2 linked regions of the Homo sapiens genome follow. The protein of the gene in region 2 interacts with the protein of the main gene of each other region in a pairwise test. Each region holds a gene or a part of one and is shown on either strand. Other genes may lie near its edges. The genes, in order: SHMT1 and DEDD.

What was found.
Region 1: the proteins of DEDD (region 2) and SHMT1 interact in a two-hybrid assay, tested with the Homo sapiens proteins (one large-scale study listed by BioGRID and IntAct).

Annotation. Positions count from the first base shown.
Region 1 is NC_000017.11:18,327,055-18,329,966, forward strand, and holds the end of SHMT1 (serine hydroxymethyltransferase, cytosolic), read right to left. Parts: intron 2,335-2,912; coding exon 2,224-2,334; intron 1,866-2,223; coding exon 1,696-1,865; 3' UTR 819-1,695; downstream 1-818. UniProt on the Homo sapiens protein: Interconversion of serine and glycine.
Region 2 is NC_000001.11:161,122,452-161,126,274, forward strand, and holds part of DEDD (death effector domain-containing protein), read right to left. Parts: intron 2,995-3,823; exon of another isoform or gene 2,076-2,994; 5' UTR 2,012-2,075; coding exon 1,687-2,011; intron 1,496-1,686; coding exon 1,388-1,495; intron 771-1,387; coding exon 624-770; coding exon of another isoform or gene 534-623; intron 73-533; coding exon 1-72. UniProt on the Homo sapiens protein: A scaffold protein that directs CASP3 to certain substrates and facilitates their ordered degradation during apoptosis. May also play a role in mediating CASP3 cleavage of KRT18. Regulates degradation of intermediate filaments during apoptosis.

The sequences.
Region 1 (2,912 bases), on a different chromosome or scaffold from region 2:
AACTGGAGATATGGTTTTTAACACTGCAAAAAGGAAAAAGCATCAAGTTTCTACTTCTGGCTGGAAAGCAAAACCAATCTCAGCTGACAAGGCTGGGCAAACTAAGTTTTCCTGAGCCCATTTTCCTTTGAGCCCTGACCTAGCCTGGCCTTACCTCATTAAGGTTTGGTTAAAGCAGTGGAAAGGAGGAGGAGGCAGGGGTGGATGGGGGTGTGGGGAGGGGATGAGCACTCTGCAGCCGATTAATCTGTTGGTAGGGGCCCAGCTTCTTGGGAGTGCTTATTCAGCCCAAGAGTGGAGGCTGTTTACAGCGAGCCCTGGAGATGGCAGCTTGTCTCCAGCTGGGGAGGGGTCAGGCCCCTAAATTGAAGACCACTTTGGTAGCAGAACTGTAGGGACTGGTGAGTCAACTCACAGATTCTGCAGCAGCTGCTCCACCCACAATAAAGCAAACGCCGACAGGCTAGACCCCAGATTGCAGGGGCTGCCACCTACAAGGTGGGACCACAGGCTGCCTCACCGGGATTGTCTGCCACTAAATAGCTGGAGTCACAGATTGAGATAAATGCCACCTTCAAGGTTGCAGTGAAAAGCATAATCCTATGTGATGAATTTATATGTGTTATTTTTTAAAAAGCTATTTTATTACTGCATGTTCCCGTCCCGTCTTGTGAATGTGAGTCCCCGCCACCACGTGAGGTGCAGTCGTTGCAGCGGCTGGTGCAGGAGTGCAGCTGGCGCGTGTGTGATAGCATCTCGTAGGTGTTGCTGCACAAGAGTTAACCAGAGTCAATGCCAAACACATAGTATGAGAAGTGTACTTTTTAAGAAATTAATTTATTTGAGTTCAAATATTTTTGAAATATAAAAATTGGTTGTATTTTTTAAAGCTATAATTCTTGTAGACATTCTGTGGTTAAAAATTTGATTGTGCTTATTAAAAATGGTCATCTATGTTTTGCACTTCAGCTACGTGAAAATAAAATTTCTTTGGGAAGGTGACATTTGGCTTCCTGATTACGGGAGGGAGTTGGTTATCTCAGGTGGAGCAGGAAAGCCTGGTTGATTCTCACACCAGGATGGGACTGGGACTTCCCAGGATGGAGGGAGGAGGCCATTTCTACACCATACTTTGAGCTACTGACAGCAAAACCCTCCCACCATACTGGGTGCATCTTGTTTACTCTTGACTAACATACACTTCTGATTTACAGCAGAAGCCTCAGAAGCTAATTCAGTTCTCCTTTGGCATGCCACTGGATAACAAGATAGTGAGGGGGCAGTGTGTACAAGCTGTGGACATGGGCATTTCCTCTCTGTTGCAGCAAGGCGGAGGAAAGCCCAGGGAGAGTAAAACGCTACAATCTTTCTAACAGCTTTGCCCTACACCACCATCTAAATGATTATGACCAAGTGGCGACATAGTATTTTATTTTCCTAGAATTATGTCCAGCTGTGAGAAAGCCAGGTTCAAATTTAAATCCTTTAATAACCTGTCCCAGAATTACTAACAATGAGACTTAAACAAATTTTGATTTGTGAAGAAAACATGAAAAAAGTCCAAAAGAAACCCCCTCAAAGGGCCCGAGTGTCAACAGTTCCCCTTTGGAGCAGCTCATCCATCTCTCAGGTGGGGGTCCTCCGGCAGGCAGCTTCCTCTGTGGCGCCAGGTGGGTCCAGAGTGGGCCCGCTCCTTTAGAAGTCAGGCAGGCCAGGCAGAGGGAAGAGAGAGGCGAAGCTCTCAACCTCCTCCCGGAGAGCCTGCACGGCCGCCTGGTACTTATCCCCTGCCAGTCTCTCCTTGAACTCTTTCAGGGTGGCTCTGACACCAGTGTCGCTCTGGATCTGCAGGGTCAGCTCTATCCCTGTGCCACAAGACACAAATGAGTCACCCCACACTACACACCAAAGGGGGTACAATGGCTGGGGGCCGAGGCACAAATGTCAGAATGTCCCCCAGCTGGGGAGTGTGGCAGGGCACAAGGTCTCCATGCTTACCTCAATTACTCTGAGATGCACCCACCCTTGGACAGATGTCCTGGGCAGCCCAAATTTATAACCCTCTCAGACAAGGTGATTTACATGTGTTTTTTGCTGTCTCCCACCCCAACACTCAGCCTTGGTGCAGAATTGTCTTTCAGTGGCAGGGTCTCAGCTACTCATCACAATCAGAAACTAAATACACACAATAAGATGTGGCAACTTCCAAACTTTTATCCTTACCTCTGTGAATAAAGTGGGCTACTTTTTGGAAGTCTTTTTCCAAAAGTCCACGGGACGTCAGTGCTGGGGTCCCCAGCCGCAGTCCACTGGGCCGCAGAGCGCTTCTGTCACCTACAAGATAAACGGGGCTCTGTCCCTAAGTCACATTGTCACCACTGTGATGGTGGTGCATTTAAAAAGGGACATGTGGGCAAAAGAGAACTGGCCTGAGGATACTGGCTGTCCCTAGCAAGGAGTACAACTGATTCAGAAACTAAAGTAGAACCCAAGGCACAAGGAGGCACAACCACGTTTGGCCACTCTGACTTAATTACTAGTACACAAAGTGGTCTGATGTGCCCCTTGCTCCTAAAAATGAGGGTAACATCTGTCTGGGTCTGAGATGCGTCATCAATATTTTGTTAACAACCCACAGAGAAATGCAGCCTCTGGATTCCGGAGGCCCTGACCTCCCTCATCTGATGAATGTACCACCTCCAACAGCTCTACATCAGTCTTTTTGCTCCCTGGCAGGGTCAGGGCCAAGTACAAAGGCACAGCCAAGAGACAGCCAAGGTATGGTCCCTGCCCCCGCTCCATTTTTTGTTTTTGTTTTTGTTTTTTTGAGACGGAGTCTCACTGTCGCCTAAGCTGGAGTGCAGTGGCGCAGTCTCGGCTCAATGCAGCCTCTGCCTCCTGGGTTCAAGCAA
Region 2 (3,823 bases):
TGTTAGAGAAGACATTGCCCTGCAGAGCAGTCTCATGCTGGCAGTATTCAGCCCGAACCCGCAGTCTGATGTCTGTTGGAAACAGAAGATACAGAGCAGAAGAGGTTACAGTAAGGGATGAGTTTACAAGCCAAGCTTGAAAACTGAAAAGCACAACAGAATAAAAAAGTAGGGAATATCACCTGACAGCTTCTCTACCTCTTCCCCAGGACTATTTCTATGTATCTCTGAAATCCTTGCCTGAATGCAGGAGGTTCCCTTAAACGGGACATGCCGAGGTCAGCACTGTTCCCATTACTCACAGGTAGCAACTTGTTTATAGGAGATATTTTCCTAATTACCAGGCATAGAAGTTCATTTTAATACTCGACTTGGCTCATCCTACAATAAGGATGTCATAACAACATCCCTGTGATGTAGTATTAACTAACAAGAGTTGAAATGTACCCTGCCACAATCATAAAGAGCAGTTCTTCCACCAGACACCAAACCATTCAGCCTCACTTTGCAATGGCAATCAAAGTGAATCTCACACTGAATAGCATAAACTGCCCAGTGTCCCAGCAGTTCTTTATATTCTCCTTCAAGTCTGCTCCATCTCTGGAACCCTTGAACTTCCTCACCACATGTCTGCTTCTCCTTGGGATCTGGTGTCACTGACTTCCGGCGTTTTCGCTGGCTCCCAAGTGTGGCTCTCCCTCGGGCTGGCCGCTTGCTACACATCTGAGGACCCGAAGTGGGGCAACACACCACAGGATAGTGGGGAGGCACTGACCAGAAAGTAAAAGGGAAGAAAACACAGTAGGGTAAAGGCAGAAATTCAAACACTTCTGTTGGAATGAGGAAGGAATCATTTAGACTTAGCACTAAAAGCAGTGGAAAAATGTGACTTGAAAAGACATGTGAGACCAGGTGCAGTGGCTCACGCCTGTAATCCCAGCACTTTGGGAGGCCAAGGCGGGTGGATCATGAGGTCAGGAGATCGAGACCATCCTGGCTAACACGGTGAAACCCCGTCTCTAAAAATACAAAAAATTAGCTGGGCGTGCTGGCGGGCGCCTGTAGTCCCAGCTACTCAGGAGGCTGAGGCAGGAGAATGGCGTGCACCTGGGAAGTGGGGCTTGCAGTGAACCGAGATTGCGCCACTGCACTCCAGCCTGGGCGACAGAGGGAGACTCTGTCTCAAAAAAAAAAAAAAAAAAGACAAGACATGTGAGAGCAAATACAGGACCTAGGAGAAATGTCACCTCGCCTGATTTTTTTTTTTTATGGGGCAAGATGTGGGCGCACAGCATCCTTTCATTTAAGCTGGCAAAGCCCAGAATGTGATGGGATCAGTGTCCTTTTACTTGATGATGGAAAGCAGGGGGAGTTAATGTCTTCTCACCTGTTTTAGAGGGCTGGGGAGGCCTTGGTTCTGGATCACTGAGGGCTCTGGGGGTCACATAGCGAATTGATGTCTCCTCCAGATACTTGTCTACAAGATCAGGGCACACTGTAGGAGGAGAAGTAATCATTCAGGAAAATATACACCCTTCCCTTCTGTCAGTCCAAACCCCCAGTGGGCCTCACAACTTACTCTAAGTACTCCCCAGGATCAATGTGTCCTCCCCTTTGGACGCCTATGCTGCTCCTTCCTGGCCTCCCACAACTCTTCCCTGATTCCAGCCCCTAATACTTCCTCACCAGCCCGTCTCCTCTTGAGGGTGACGTAGGGCAGCAGGTCGTGGCGAGTGATGATGCGCAGCAGCTGCAGCACCTGGCGAAAGTTACTTTCATCACAGCGGCCCTGGCGCTCCAGTGCCAATAAGAAGTCACGTCCATTTCGGATGAGTCCACGCTCGTGGTCATCAATGACATCAACAAAGAGGAAAGAAAGCACGCGCACATCTCTGTGTGTCAGATGAGTGCCCACGATGTCAAACATGCGGTGCAGGCTGTACAGCCCATGTTCCTGCTCACCATGCTCTTCTGGCCACACCTGGCTTGCCCGCCGCTTTAGGCCCGCCATGCTGGGGGCTCAGGTACGCAATGCTTTCCAGAATCCCTGCTCAGCAGCTGCAATCCCCACCGTACTGAAAGGGCAGGGAAAGAACCGATGAGACACTCAAGGGCAGGAACTAGTCTCATGCATTCCCATATTCCCAGTTGCTAACAATGCCTGGCACAGTATAGTGCTTTATACATGTTTATTAAATTTTTGAAGTGTTTGTTTAAAAATAAACACTGGCCAGGCACAGGGGCTCACACCTGTAATCCCAGCATTTTGGGAGGCCAAGGCAGGAGGATCACTTGAGCCCAGGCGTTTAAGACCAGCCTGGGCAACATAGGGAGACCCGTTTCTACAAAAAAAGAAAAAATTAGCTGGGCTTGGTGGTACACGCCTGTAGTCCCAGCTGCACAGGAGGCTGAGGTGGGAGGAAGGCTTGAGGCCAGGAGTTCAAGATCAGCCTGGTCAACATAGCAAGACCCCATCTCTACAAAAAAGAAAAAAATTAGCAAGGCATGGTGGCATGTGCCTGTAGTCCCTGCTACTCAGGAGGCTGAGGCAGGAGGATCACTTGAGCCCAGGAGTTCAAGGCTGCAGTGAGCCATAATCCTGCACTGTAGCCTGGGTGACAGAGTGAGTCCCCCATCTCGGAAAAAAAAGAACTAGTTTAAATTCTGACTGTATCACTGAAAGGCTGTGTAGCTGTGTGACCGTAAGCAAGTCACTTAACTCCAGATTCTCAGTGCTGTCATCTATAAACAGGGATGAATGAATATACACCTCAGAGTTGTTAAGAATCCAATGAGAAAATCACGGGTAACCCTTATATAAATGGTTGTGAAACATTTCAAAGATACAAGCATCCTTGGCCTTTGCAGCCCAGAATCATCCCTCCACATTTTTCCTACAATCCAACCACATCAAGAAATGATAACTGCTCAGAAAGTTTATCAATATTTACCAAAACTCATGGATTTAAAATAAACATTAAGTTTCTACAATAAGCATTCTTGTAATTCTATGCCATTTGTACTCCCTTGATCTTCACCCTATTTGGCAATATCAACTTTTTTTTTTTGAGATGGAGTCTCACTTTGTCACCCAGGCTGGAGTGCAGTGGTGCAATCTCGGCTCACTGCAACCTCCGCCTCCCAGGTTCAAGCAATTCTCGTGCCTCAGCCTCCCAAGTAGCTGGGATTACAGGCACGCACCACCACGTCTTGCTAATTTTTGTATTTTTAGTAGAGATGGGTTTTTACCATGATGGTCAGGCTGGTCTTGAACTCCTGACCTCAGGTGATCCACCCACCTCGGCCTCCCAAAGTGCTGGGATTACAGGCGTGAGCCACCGTACCTGGCCTTGGCAATACCACCTTCTAAGCTTTCCTCATGGATGTCATTTACCAATCCCCTATCAATGACCAATCACAGCTCCACATTCGTTATATAGTTTGGCTCTTGATTCACAAAGTTCCTCCATCGTTATGGGCTACAGGTAATACCAATGACGCAGCCATTAATCAATTCCCAAATTCAACAACTTTGACTCAAGTCACTCATACTTACTGCTCCACCAGACAGTACCATCCTATACTGTGCACTCTCTGGTCACACTCTCCAATCACACAATCAATCCTAAATTCCTGTTAATGCTACTTCTAGATATTTCTTAAATCTATCCTACCTTTCCACCTCCACTGCCATGGTTCAGATTACAATAATCTCTCACCTGGACTACTGTAACTTTAAAAGTTCTCTGCAACACCAATCTTAACCTACCTAAATCCATCCACTGCCACATCTAGTTCAGTTAGCTGTCTGAAGTCCACAACT